2 linked regions of the Homo sapiens genome follow. The protein of the gene in region 1 interacts with the protein of each later gene in a pairwise test. Each region holds a gene or a part of one and is shown on either strand. Other genes may lie near its edges.

The links. Proteins that work in one complex are often made in the same cells at the same time.
Region 2: the proteins of CEP83 (region 1) and CLIP3 interact in binary tests that used the Homo sapiens proteins (3 or more experiments, as listed by UniProt).

The regions. Positions count from the first base shown.
Region 1 is NC_000012.12:94,449,850-94,456,875, reverse strand, and holds part of CEP83 (centrosomal protein of 83 kDa), read left to right. Parts: intron 1-7,026. UniProt on the Homo sapiens protein: Component of the distal appendage region of the centriole involved in the initiation of primary cilium assembly.
Region 2 is NC_000019.10:36,015,874-36,022,899, forward strand, and holds part of CLIP3 (CAP-Gly domain-containing linker protein 3), read right to left. Parts: intron 3,512-7,026; exon of another isoform or gene 3,434-3,511; coding exon 3,298-3,433; intron 3,154-3,297; coding exon 3,025-3,153; intron 2,119-3,024; coding exon 1,975-2,118; intron 1,906-1,974; coding exon 1,782-1,905; intron 1,578-1,781; coding exon 1,513-1,577; intron 1,107-1,512; coding exon 1,034-1,106; exon of another isoform or gene 939-1,033; intron 340-938; coding exon 285-339; 3' UTR 1-284. UniProt on the Homo sapiens protein: Functions as a cytoplasmic linker protein. Involved in TGN-endosome dynamics. May modulate the cellular compartmentalization of AKT kinase family and promote its cell membrane localization, thereby playing a role in glucose transport in adipocytes.

The DNA.
Region 1 (7,026 bases):
CGATGAGCTGTATCCTTAGTCTTTTCCAAATACAAGTTGCTGAATAAATGTTTCTTAAAGATGACTGATATGATTAGGCTTTGTGTCCCCACCCAAATCTCACCTTGAATTATAATCCCCATAATCCCCATGTGTCAGGGAAGAGACCAGGTGGAGGGAATTGGATCATGGCGGCGGTTTCCCCCATACTGTTCCTCGTGACAGTGAGTTCTCATGAGATCTGGTGGTTTTATAAGTGTTTGGTAGTTCCTCCTGCATTCATTCTCCTTCCTGCTACCTTGTGAAGAAGGTGCCTTGCTTCCCCTTCACCTTCTGCCATGATTGTAAGTTTTCTGACGCCTCTCCAGCCATGTGGAACTGTGAATCAATTAAACCTCTTTCCTTTATAAATTACCCAATCTCAGGCAGTTCTTTATAGCAATATGAAAATGGACTAATACAATGACAGATAGGCATTTCTACTTTCCCCCACTTTTGTAAGTATCATGAAAGTAAGGTTGTTGAGAGAAGAGAGTAAGTGAAGGGGAAATGGCAACAGTAAACTATAAAAAAGATTGAAGAGTGGGAATTCACGGAATCAGAAATAAAGATTCTGTTCCTAGAAAGTGAGTATTTGAGAATTTCCCATGGCAATACCAGCAGTAAGGACTCTCAGGAATGCTGGCACTATTCTTCAGTGGGCTTGGGGAGTTTGGTCAATTTCCTGGTTCCTAGTAGAATATCAGTTTATTAATTATATTTTTTTCATCAGGACTGCCCTCTCTAGGTCATGGAGAGATCACTGACTGTCAAGTCTAGTACTATTTCTTTTTTCTTTTTTTTTTTTTTGAGATGGAGTTTTGCTCTGTCGCCCAGGCTGGAGCGTAGTGGTGCAATCTTTGTTCACTGCAACCTTGAACTCGTGGGTTCACGTGATTCTCCTGCCTCAGCCTCCCAAGTGGCTGGGGCTAACAGGTGCATGCCACCACACCTGGCTTTTTTTTTGTATTTTGAATAGAGACAGGGTTTCACCACATTGGCCAGGCTGGTCTCGGAACTCCTGGCCTCAAGTGATTCACCCACCTTGGCCTCCCAAAGTGCTGGGATTGTAGGTGTGAGCCAATGCGCCCGGCCTACTATTTCTTTTAACTGAGCTATAATCCAGGATGGAAGAAATTAAGGAAATGCCCAGTTATTTGCCTTCTGTATATTGTGACTTCAGATTGCTTTTGGATTAAAATTCAGAGTTAGTAGGAACCTAAACCTGGCCATTCCCTTTTGGAAAGCACCTATCTTCTGTCTCAAAATATGTCTATAAAATGTCCATGTAGTTTTTACAGTCTCACCAAAAATCCTGTATCTAATGCTTATAACAAAGAGTTACTTCAGTTGAAGATATAGAAAGTGAAGTTGAGTCTCAGAATGCTTTCATAAATATTCGTTTGATTCAGTTACTTCTTGAGTGAATTTGCCATTCTAGCTTCTGAGTTGTTGCCCAGTAACACAATTGCAGTATAATATAGCAACCCTTGAAAACAGTAGCATTGGACTATAGGGATTTTCCTGATGAAGTTGCATTGCCTATCTCTGATGTTCATATTCAGCCTCTCTCAAGTGTGATTGCATTTTGTTTTAAGGCAGCTATTTCAGATATTGTTAAACTTAAGGGGCATGCAATATATGCTCTTAAGGATATTTTTTAGAGTACTGATGAATTATAACTTCTTTCACATTGTTTTCCACATAGAGATGCATGATAATGTGTCCGGAATTGGTTCATTCTGGTGGGTTCTTGGTCTCGCTGACTTCAAGAATGAAGCTGCGGACCCTCGTGGTGAATGTTGCAGTTCTTAAAGATGGTGTGTCCGGAGTTTGTTCCTTCAGATGTTCAGATGTGTCCGGAGTTTCTTCCTTCTGGTGGGTTCATGGTCTTGCTGACTTCAGGAGTGAGGCTGCAGACTTTTGCAGTGAGTGCTACAGCTCTTAAAGGTGGCGCGTCCGGAGTTGTTCATTCCTCCCGGTGGGTTCGTGGTATTGCTGGCTTCAGGAGTGAAGCTGCAGACTTTCGCAGTGAGTGTTACAGCTCTTAAAGGTGGCGCGTCCGGCATTGTTCATTCCTCCCGGTGGGTTCGTGGTCTCGCTGGCTTCAGGAGTGAAGCTGCGGACCTTCGTGGTGAGTGTTACAGCTCATAAAGGCAGTGTGGACCCAAAGAGTGAGCAGCAGCAAGATTTATTGCGAAGAGCAAAAGAACAGAGCTTCCACGGCATGGAAGGGGACCCGTGTGGGTTGCTGCTGCTGGCTCAGGTGCCTAGCTCTTCTTCCCTTATTTGGCCCCACCCACATCCTGCTAATTGGTCCATTTTACAGAGAGCTGATTGGTCCATTTTACAGAGTGCTGATTGGTCCGTTTTTACAGAGTGCTGATTGGTGCGTTTACAAACCTTTAGTTAGACACAGAGCGCTGATTGGTGCATTTGCAATCCTTTAGCTAGACAGAAAAGTTCTCCAAGTCCACACCGGACCCAGAATCCCAGCTGGCTTCATGTCTCAATAAGTATGTATTGAATTATTTTTTGTGTGAAGGACACGTGAAAATACTGGTTCAATTAAAGATTATTCTGGGCAGAAAAAGTATTATGTAATAACAGACTTCTCTACAACTGATATAGCCAGCCAGAGCTGGAGTGGATGAAGTTGAAATGGTTCTTTATAACATTTTTGTATTACTTCTAGAGCTTCATAGAAAGCTGAGATCACTAAGCACAATTTAATAGGTACTCTAATTTTTTTTTTTTTTTTTGAGACATAGTCTTACTCTGTCAGCAGGCTAGAGTGCAGTGGTGTGATCTCAGCTCACTGCAACCTCTGCCTCCTGGGTTCAAGCGATTCTCCTGCCTTAGCCTCCCAAGTAGCTGGGACTACAGGCACATGCAACCATGCCCAGCTAATTTTTTGATTTTTAAGAGAGACGGAATTTCACTATGTTAGCCAGGATGGTCTTGATCTCCTGACCTTATGACCCACCTGCCTTGGCCTCCCAAAGTGCTGGGATTACAGGTGTGAGCCACTGCGCCCGGCCTAGGCACTGTAATTTTGTGGGAAGAGAATTGTGATTCAGGAGACCAAGGCTTGACTGGGTGAGTCACTTCACCTTTCATGGCCTATTTTCTCATTTGAAAACATAAATCTCTGAAAGTTTCCTTCAGAAATGGTATGCTTCCAATTTAAAGCAAATTTTATTTCTCTTATATATGGGTTTAATCAATATTTGAGTGCCTATTATGTGTCTCATGCTATGCTAGGCACTGGGGAGATTGTGAATAAGACATAGTGCTAAGTCTCAAGCACCTTATTCTCTGATGGGAGAAATGGACAAAGTAATTAGTAATTTGTAATAAAGCATGTTAAATGCTATAAGGATAGATAAGAATGTGTTTTGGGGCATGTAGGAAGAATACCTGGCCTAGAACTAGAAAGAATACACAAAAATTGAGGAATGTCTCTTTAGAATCTTGTAAGTGTAGTTGTAGGGTGTACAGAGCAGTATTCAACTTGGCCCGGAGGAAGTTAGTCAAAGAAAACTAGGAAAACAATTCTTGAAGTTGGAGAGAGAGAAGAGTCATCAACGTTAGTGGTAGTTGAAATACCAGGTATAGATGAGGTTCCTAGTGAGAGTTGTGTAGAATCAGAAGAGAGCTTGTGAACACCAGCATGTAATAGGAAGGGGGAGAAAGAAGGTAGGAAAACCAGAGTAGGGTAACGTTTTGGAAACCAAAGAAAGAATGCACATCACATTTAGTTTATTGATTAAATGGAAATTGTTGCTCAAGAAACATTGAGTGTGTAGTCCTATAAATGTAAACCTATCTAAATAAAGATGCCCTCTACAAAGATCTGAACTTGCAAATGGGGGTAGTTTAAGTCCTTGTTTAGCAGCGTAACAGAGGAAAGAGTATGTACTTTGGAGCCTGGATCCTGAGAGTGAAGGTTAGATTACTAGCTGCGTAACTTTTTGAACCAGTTACTTAATTTTTTGGTCCTTAATGTATGGATTAAAATAAGGTAAGCTGTAAACTTGACTTTTAGTGGGCATTGTTGATTTTTATCCTTGCCATTATTAATGACTCTTCTGAACTACATACCCTTCTTTTCCTTCCCCATCCCCCGTCATATTCTTTCATCCTTCAAGATCCACCAAAATTCCTGCCTTTTCTTTGATATCTTCCTCTATGGATGATATTACAAATTTTCTGTAATGGAATGAACATGTCCTGTGTCCCTTAGAATTAGCAACGTTATTCTTTTTTCTTTTTCTTTTTTAAAGCCTTAAGAAGGAAATTGTATTATCTCACATGTAAGAAGTCTGGAGATAGGTGGTTCTAAGATTGTCAATTAAGTGGCTTAGTGATAATCTTTAAGAACCTGGATTCTTTTTGCTTGGTCATCCTTTGAACTCAGCCTTGATTACTACAACTATCAACAAATTTTCCAAAGTTTGGAAGAGATAACTTCTTTCTTCTACCTAGCCCTTTTTAAACAGCTTTATTGAGATATATTTTACCTACCATAAAAACCACTCATTGTAAGTGTACAATTTAATGGTTTTTAGCAACTTTATAGAGTTGTGCGACTGTCATCACAAGGCAATTTCTGACATTTTATCAGTCTCCTAGATTCTCTCAAGCTTATTTGCATTTAAGGTAACTCCTTCCCACAGCCCCAGAGAACCACTGATCTACTTTCTATCACTATAAATTTGTCTTTTCTACATATTTCATATAAATGGAATCAATACAGTAGTCTTTTGCATCTGGCTTCTTTAACTTCATGCTTTTGAGGTTTATTTAATGTATGTATATCAATGTTTTGTTCTTTTTAATTGTTGCATAGTATTCGTGTGTATTTTCCATTCACCAGTTGAATAGTATTGGTGAATAGTATTTCCCATTTACTGGTAACCAGTGAATAGTATTTCCCATTCACTAGGTGATAGACATTGGATGGTTTCCAGTTTTTGGCTGTTATGAATAATGCTGCTATGAAGATTTGTCTGTAATTCCTTGTGTGAGCATATGTATTCATTTGTTTTGGGTAAATTCCTAGGAGTGGAATTGTTGAATTATATGGTAAGCTTATTTTTAACTTTTAAAGAAACTGTCAAAATGTTTTCCAAAGTAGCTGTACCAATTACATCCTACCAGCAATGTATGATGATTCCAGTTTCTCCACATCCTCACCAACAGTTGGTATTATCTTTTTAATTATAGCCATTCTAGTTAGTATCTAGTAGTATCCCATTGTAATTTTAATTTGCATTTCCCTGCACAGTAATGTTGGACACCTTTTTCTGTGGTTATTGGCCATTTGGTGGAATATCTGTTTAAGGCATTTGCCCATTTTTTAGCTGGGTTTTTTTTTTTTTTTTTTTGGTCTTACTGAGTTGTAAGAGTTCTTTATATATGCTGGATGAAAGTTTGTATTGTTTTTAATATCAGAGATAAGATTTGCAAATATTTCTCCCAGTTGGTGTCTTGGCTTTTCATATTTTTACTGTTGTCTTTTGAAGTGCAAAAGTTTTTAATGAAGTCATTTCTTTTGTGTGTGTGGCACGTACTTTCATGTTATGTATACGAACTTTTTGCCTAATCCAAGGTCCCAAAGATTTTTCTTTGAGCTCCCAAAGGTCTTCTTTGAGCTCTTTCCTTTAAATATAAGATTCATATTGAATTAACCGTGCATTTGATGTAAGAAGAGGATCTAAGTTCATTTTTTAAAAATGTGAATGCCAAATTATCCAGTACCATTTGTTAAAAAGACTGTTCTTTTCCCTTCAATTGTATTGGCATCTTTGTAAAATATCAGTTGACTATAATGTAAGAATTTATTCCAAGACTCATGTCTATAAACCTATCCTTACTCCAACACTATTCTGTCTTGATTACTGCAGTTTTATAGTAAGTTTCAAAATAAGTAGTGTAACATTTTCTTCTTTTTCAAAATTGGTTCTATGCTCTTTCCATTTCCATATACAATTTAGGATCAGCTTGTTAATTTCTACAAAAACACATCTGATGTTTGTAGGATTTGCATTGAATCTATCCATCAATATGGGAAGAATCACTAACTTAACCATCTTGAGTCTTCCAATCCATGAACATGTAATATCTCTCCATTTACTTAGATCTTTCATTTCTCTTAATAATGTTTTTTACTTTTCAGTGTACAAATCGTGCACTTATTTGGTTAAATTTATTCCTAAGACTGTTATAATTTTGATGCTCTTGGAAATGGAGTTTTCATGATTTGATTTCAAATTGTTCATTGTTAGCACAAAAAAATGCAATCGTCCAGGCTTGGTGGCTCACGCCTGTAATCCCAGCACTTTGGGATCCAAGGCAGGTGGATCACGAGGTCAGGAGATCGAGACCATCTTGGCTAACACGGTGAAACCCCGTCTCTACTAAAAATACAAAAAAGTTAGCTGGGAGTGGTGGCGGGCACCTGTAGTCCCAGCTACTCGGGAGGCTGAGGCAGGAGAATGGCGTGAACCCGGGAGGCGGAGCTTGCAGTGAGCTGAGATTGTGCCACTGCACTCCAGCCTAGAAGACAGAGCGAGAATCTGTCTAAAAAAAAATGCAACCAATTTTTGCATATTGTTTGTACATAGATGATCATGTCTCAAAACGATACTTTTTCTTTCCAATCTCAATGTTATTTATTTCTTCATTTTTGCTTTAATTCTTGGGTTAGACCCTCCAGTAAGATGTTGAAGAGAAGTGTTGAATGTGCATTGCATTACTCCCAGTCTTAGGGGGAAAACATGCAGATTTTTGCCATCAGGTATAATGTTAGCTGTAGATTTTCTATAGATGCCCTTTGAAGAAGGTTAAGGAAGCTCCCTTATGTTCCTAGTTTGTTGCAAGTTTTTAATCATGAGTGGGTGTTAGATTTTGTCATGTTTTTTCCTGCATCTGATGATATGGTTATATGATTTTTATTGTTAGTATGCTATATATTAATTGATTGTTGGAGATTAAACCCACCCT
Region 2 (7,026 bases), on another chromosome or scaffold:
ATGGAAATCTGTTAATCTGGGAATCTGCTCTGAGGGGTTGGGGATAGGGACTAGCCTGAAGGTGCTACTCAGGGAATCTCTTTCTGGGTGACATGGGGTCTGTATTTGGGGGTTATTATGGGAGTATCTGTTAATAATGGGGCCTCAATGATCGAGGGCTGGCTAACAGGGGTCTCTACTCTGGATGTGTTACTGGGAATCTCTATCTCAGGGTGACTCAGGGCTCCTCGGGTGTCAGGAGATGCTAGTGGGGACTCTGTCTCTTTGTCAGGTGTCCAGGGCCTCTAAGACTGCATCTCCGCCCTCAGCATCCAGGGGAACCAGCAGCAGAACAGCAACCTGGAAAGGAGGATGACAGGGTCACGCCCTTAGGCAGGCAGCGGGGACATCTGCACCCATCACCCCCAGCCTTTCCCCCAGTGTTTGCTATCAGGCCTTTCTGGATTCTGCCTCTACCTCTCTGGCTGTGGTTTGTTTGTTTGTTTGTTTTCTGAGATGGAGTCTCACTCTGTCACCCAGGCTGGAGTGCCATGGCACGATCTCGGCTCACTGCAACCTCTGCCTCCCAGGTTCAAGCAATTCTCCTGTCTCAGCCTCCCGAGTAGCTGGGACTACAGGTGTATGCCATTGTGTCCGGCTAACTTTTGTGTTTTTGGTAGAGACGGGGTTTCACCATGTTGGCCAGGCTGGTCTTGAACTCCTGACCTCAGGTGATCCGCCTGCCTTGGCCTCCCAAAGTGCTGGGATTAAAGGCATGAGCCACCCCGCCCGGTCTCTAGCTGTTGTTCTGAGGCTCGTATGGAGTGAAGGGTGTTCTGCTTCCTTTACCGGCCCACCCGAAAGTGGAATTCACTAGAATTCAGTGCGGGGCCCTACACCCTAAAGACTGTTTCTGGGTATGCTTACAAGTCACAAGTTTTCCTAACCTCTCTTTCCAGCCCTGACCAGAGCTCCAGACCTCTGGGTCCAACTGCCTTATGGATCCCTCTCCCTGAATGTCACATAGGAGAGGGGACAGGGGTTGGCCACACACCTGGAAATGGAGTTCTCTGATGCAATGTCCTTTGGGGTCCGGACTGTGGTGAAGGTGCGTTTGGGCTGCGTCACTGAAGAGGAGGGCAGGATGTCAAGTGAGGGGATGACAGACCACCTGTGTCCTCAATACCCATCCAGACCCCTTCTCATTAATACCTCCCCATGTCTCCAGTCCCCACCTGGATCCTACATTCCCAATACCCATCTGGGCCTCTTGTCCATAATTCCCACCATGTCCCCCAGTGACTATCCCTGTCCCCAGTATCTGCTCAACCTCATGTCCCCGAAGAGCCTTGTTGCTAATTTCCTCATATCCTCTAGCACCTATCTTTTTGTGGACCTTGTCTCATCATTTTCCTGGACCCTGTGTCCCCAATTAAATACCAGAGACTGTCACCAGTATATACCTGAGAACCCATGACCCTTCCTCCCATCCCCAAACGTACACTCCTCCCAACATATCATCCCCTAACTCACTTGTCACTTGATGCACTTTTTTGGCTCCAACGCTGTCCCCGGGGGAATCAGTGGATCCGCCAATCCTGAGGAGACACGGGGAGGGGGAGAAGTCAGAGCCACAAAAGGCCAGGGTCTGACTGAGAGCTGGGCCCCAGGGATCTATGAGGAAAGGGCTGGGGGCTCGGGGGTGTCCACACTGTCCTGCTGGTCTGGGAGGAGGAGGCCATCTGAGGGGGGATCAGGGCTCCAGGTGGTGCCCTGGGTTTGGGCTGGAAGTTTGGGCTCACCTCTGAATACGGGATGCTGGTGCGAAGACCCCATGCCTCGGGGGGCAAGTGAAGTACCGGACACCGAAGACAGAGCCATCATGCTTGCCTGTGGGCTGGTCCAGCTCAATGCCATACCAGTAACCTGCAGCACGAGGGTGTCAGGATTTCTCAAGGCCCTGCCTGCCTCCCGGCCCAGAGTCCCCATCCTCACCTGGGGCAAAGTCTGTCTTCCCGTAGAAGCGCACGATCCCCTGCTTCTGGCCCGCGACAAGGACCTGGTCTCCAACCTCAGCCTTGGCCCCGTCACGCTGCTGCAAGCTGCCCAGAGATGGGGATGATGGGGTCTTCTTCTTGCCTAAGGGTAGAAGGTGTAGGAGGTGGGTAGTGGGGCTGAGGCCAGCTTTGGGAACCTCGTGCCACCTGGAAAACCCCAAGGTAGAAAACCCTGTTCTTCGTTTGAAGTGAAACTGAATCCCAGATGCCAGAGAATTAGGAAGGGGCTTTAGGCCTGAAGGGAAACTGAGTCAGAGAACCTGAAGAACCCCAAAATCCTTTCTCAAAGCTGAGGATATGTTGGATAAGGAAAAGCTGAGTCAGAAGTCAGGAACCCAGAAACTGTCCTTTTAAAATGAAGGGAAAATTGGGTCCGAGAGTAAATCAGGCCATGTGCAGTGGCGCAGGCCTGTAATCCCAACATTTTGAGAGGCCGAGGCGGGCAGATCACTTGAGGTCAGGAGTTTGAGACCAGCCTGGCCAACATGGCAAAACCCTGTCTCTACAGAAAAAAATACAAACATTAGCCAGATGTGGTGGTGGGCACCTGTAATCCCAGCTACTCGGGAGGCTGAGGCACGAGAATTGCTTGAACCCGGGAGGCGGAGGTTGCGGTGAGCCAAGATCGTGCCACCACGCTCCAGCCTGGGCAACAAGGCGAGACTCTTGACTCAAAAAAAAAAAAAAAAAAAAGTAGATCAAATGACAAAAGACAGGATCTCCAAGGATTCTTCCCTAAAACTGGGGGAGACCTTTGGGTCTGAGAGGAAACTAAGTCACAGAGGGCAGGGAACCCACAGGTCCTTCTAAGAACTAGGGGGTGCCAGTACTGAGCCAAAGGGGAAACTGAGTCACAGAAGTCAGGAACTCAGAGCTTGTCTTCCAAAACTGGAGTTTGGGCCTGAGGAGAAACTGAGTCACAGAAGCTGAGCTACCCACACAACATCCCCAAACTGGCTCTTCCCACCACAGGGATCCCCTCTCTGACCTTTGTGTTCCCTGCGGCCTTTGCCGGTGACACGGGAGAAGTCCATCCGGGGGGTCCGGGGTGTGGAGGTGACAGAGGAGGGGGGTGCGTCCACTGCCTTGGAGATCTTGGACACGGAGGCAAAGAGACCTAGGGGTACAGAATCCGAGCCTGGTGTTGTCCAAGCCTCTGCCCTCGGCCCCCATCCTCCATCCCCTATTTCCCAGTCAGCAGCATCAGAACTGCCGAGTGGACACCCAGCCACACCCCTCTTGGGCCCGAGGTCGGACTAACCCTGCTTGGGAGGGCAGATGAAGTACCGAACGCCCCCAACGCTGCCATCGTTCTTGCCCTCAGGTTCGTCCAGCTCCACGCCCACCCACTGGCCGCTGGCAAACTCCGTGGTCCCACAGAACCGCAGTGTGCCCGTCTGGGGAGAGAAGGGAGGCGATGGCTAAGGAAGGAATGCTGGGAGGCCAACGTGGAGTGCCCACACACGGGCAGCAAGGTGGGTTGCATGAGGCCGCCCTGGGCCCAAACCCCAGGTCACACATCACCATTTGCTGGCTACATGACTTAACCTCTGTGTGCCTCAACTTCCTTTGCTGTGAAATGGGAACAGAAATTATACTCACCTTATAGGATTGTTAAAGAGTTGCCCTGTCTCATATAGTGAATAGTGACTAGCCACATAGGACAATGTAAATTTATTTATTTATTTATTTTATTTATTTTTTTTTTTTTCGAGACAGCGTCTCACTCTGTTGCCAGGCTCGAGTGCAGTGGCACGATCTCGGCTCACTGCAAATTCCACTTCCTGGGTTCAAGCAATTCTCCCATCTCAGCCTCCCAAGTAGCTGGGACTACAGGTGCATGCCACCACGCCTGGCTAATTTTTGTATTTTTAGTAGAGACGGGGCTTCGCCATGTTGGCCAGGCTGGTCTCGAATTCCTGACCTCAGGTGATCCACCCGCCTCGGCCTCCCAAAGTGCTGGGATCACAGGCATGAGCCACCATGCCTGGCCAACAATTTAAATTTAAACTAAGGCCGGGTGTGGTGGCTCATGCCTATAATCCCAACACTTTGGGATGCCAAGGCTGGAGGATCACTTGAGGCCAGGAGTTTCAGACCAGCCTGGGTGAAAATGGCGAGACCCTCTAATCTTAATCTGTTCCAAAAAACAAAGACAGCAAGACCCTATTCTCTATAAAAGAAAGAAAAAAGGTAACCAGGTGCAGTAGCTCAAGCCTGTTGTCCCAGTTACTTGGGAGGCTGAGGTGGGAGGATCGCTTGAGCCCAGGAGTTCAAGGGTGCAGTGAGCTATGATGGTGCCACTGCACTCCAGCCTGGGCAACAAGCAAGACCCTGTCTCAAAAATAAATAAATACATACCTTAGAAAGAAGACTCAGATGATTTTTAAATTTAAAAATAAATAAATTTAGTCCGGGCGCGGTGGCTCACACCTATAATCCTAGCACTCTGGGAGGCCGAGGTGGGAGGATCACCTGAGGTCAGGAGTTCAAGACCAGCCTGGCCAACATGGTGAAACCCCCATCTCTACTAAAAATACAAAAATTAACCAGGCATGATGGTGCACGCCTGTAATCCCAGCTACTCGGGAGGCTGAGGCAGGAGAATTGCTTGAACCCAGGAGGGTTGCAGTGAGCCCAGATAGCACCACTGCACTCCAGCCTGAGCAACAGAGCAAGACTCTGTCTCAAGAAAAAATATAAATAAATAAAAATACAAATCAATACATTTAAACTAAATTAAAAATGCATTTCCCCAGTCACACTAGCCATATTTCAAGTGCTCAATTGTCACATGTAGCTTGTAGCTACTTTACTGGACAGCACAGACAGAATATTTCCACCATTACAGAAAGCTCTGTTGGACAGGGCTGTTATAGAGAAATTAAAGCCCTCAGAACAGGGCTTGGTATTAAGTAAAGGATCAGCAAGTATTCGTTATTGAAATTTTTTTTCTATTTTAGAGACAGGGTCTCACTCTGTGGCCCAGGCTGGAGTGCAGTGGTGCAATCATAGCTCAGTGTAACCTTGAACTCCTGGGTTCAAGCAATCTTCCCTCCTCAGTCTCCCGAGTAGCTGGGACTACAGGTGAACGCCACCAAAGCCTGGCTAATTAAAACAACAACAACAACAACAAACTTTTGTTAAAAATAGAAATGGAGTATCCCTATGTTGCCCAGGTTAGTTTCAAACTCCTGGCCTCAAGCGATCCTCCCCATCTTGGCCTCCCAAAGTGCTGGGATTACAGGTGTGAAGCCACTGTGCTCAGCCTGTTAGCTATTATCATGCTGTAACTTTGGTCAGGGGACTTATTGAGCCTCAGTTTCATCTGTAAAATAGAGATAGTAAGCCACCTCATGGAGTGATCATCTGGCGGAAACTTTTTTTTTTTTTAGACAGGGTCTCACTTTGTTGCCCATGCCAGGGGTGCAGTGGCACGACCCTGGCACAGTGCAGCCTCAAACTCCTGGGCACAAGTGATCCTCTCACTTCAGCCTCCCAAGTAGCTAGGACTACAGGTGTGCGCCACCATGCCTGATTAATTTTTTCATTATTAGTAGAGATGAGGTCTCACCATGTTGATTGCCCAGGCTGGTCTTGAACTCCTGGGCTCAAGCGATCCTCTCACTTCAGCCTCCCAAGTAGCTAGGACTATAGGTGTGTGCCACCATGCCTGGTTAATTTTTTCATTTTTAGTAGAGATGAGGTCTCACTATGTTGCCCAGGCTGGTCTCGAATTCCTGGGCTCAAGCGATCCTTCTGCCTCAGCCTCCCAAAGTGCTGGGATTACAGGCATGAGCCACCACATTTGGCGGAAACATTTTTAACACATGTAAACTTGCTTAGCTGCAGTGAGACTTTAGTGAGTGTGGTTATTATCATTATGGGAGGCTCATTCACCTCTCCATGCCTCAGTTCCTGGTCCATATAATAGGCTAATTAATTAGTGCTGATCTTTTTTTATTTTTATTTATTTATTTTTTTTTGGAGACGGAGTCTCACACTTTGGCCCAGGCTGGAGTGCAGTGGCATGATCTTGGCTCACTGCAAGCTCCGCCTCCTGGGTTCATGCCATTCTCCTGCCTCAGCCTCCTGAGTAGCTGGGACTACAGGCACCTGCCACCATGCCTGGCTAATTTTTTGTATTTTTTTTGTAGAGACGAGGTTTCACCGGGTTAGCCAGGATGGTCTCGATCTCCTGACCTCGTGATCCGCCCACCTCTGCCTCCCAAAGTGCTGGGATTACAGGCGTGAGGCACCGCGCCCCGACAATTAGTGCTGATCTTAAGAGTGTTGGTGGAGGGACTAGAACAGTGCCTGGCACACACAAAGAGCATTTAGTATGCGCTGGACTCTGTTCTAATGGCCTTACGCATTTTAATTAATTTAAACCTCAACCAGCCCCCTAAGGTGGTTACTATTATTATCTCCATTTACGGATGAAGACATTGACACCCAAAGAGGCAGAATCACTGGCTCCAGGTCCACAGGTGGGAAGTTGCAAAGCTGAGATTTACCTGGGCAAGTCCCTGAGCCTGAGTTCATGACGCTGTGCTATGCTGCTTCTCTAAGGGGCAGTGATTAGTATTCCGTGTCTTCAGATAAAGGTTTTCACCTGTTGGAGCCTCTTATAGTCTGGCTTGTAAAATGGGAAGAGTCAACCCAACCTTCCTTCTGAATTGTGCAATGGATATGATTAGATCGTGCACAGCAGAATGCTTTCTGGATGGGGCCGGGCGCAGTGGCTTATGCCTGTAATCCCAGCACTTTGGGAGCCAAGGCGGGCGAATCGCTTGAGGGCAGGAGTTTGAGACCAGCCTGGCCAATATGGTGAAACCCGTTGCTACTAAAAATAAAAATAAAAGGCCAGGCGCGGTGGCTCACGCCTGTAATCCCAGCACTTTGGGAGGCTGAGGCGGGCGGATCACGAGGTCAGGAGATCAAGACCATCCTGGCTAACACAGTGACACCCTCTCTCTACTAAAAATAC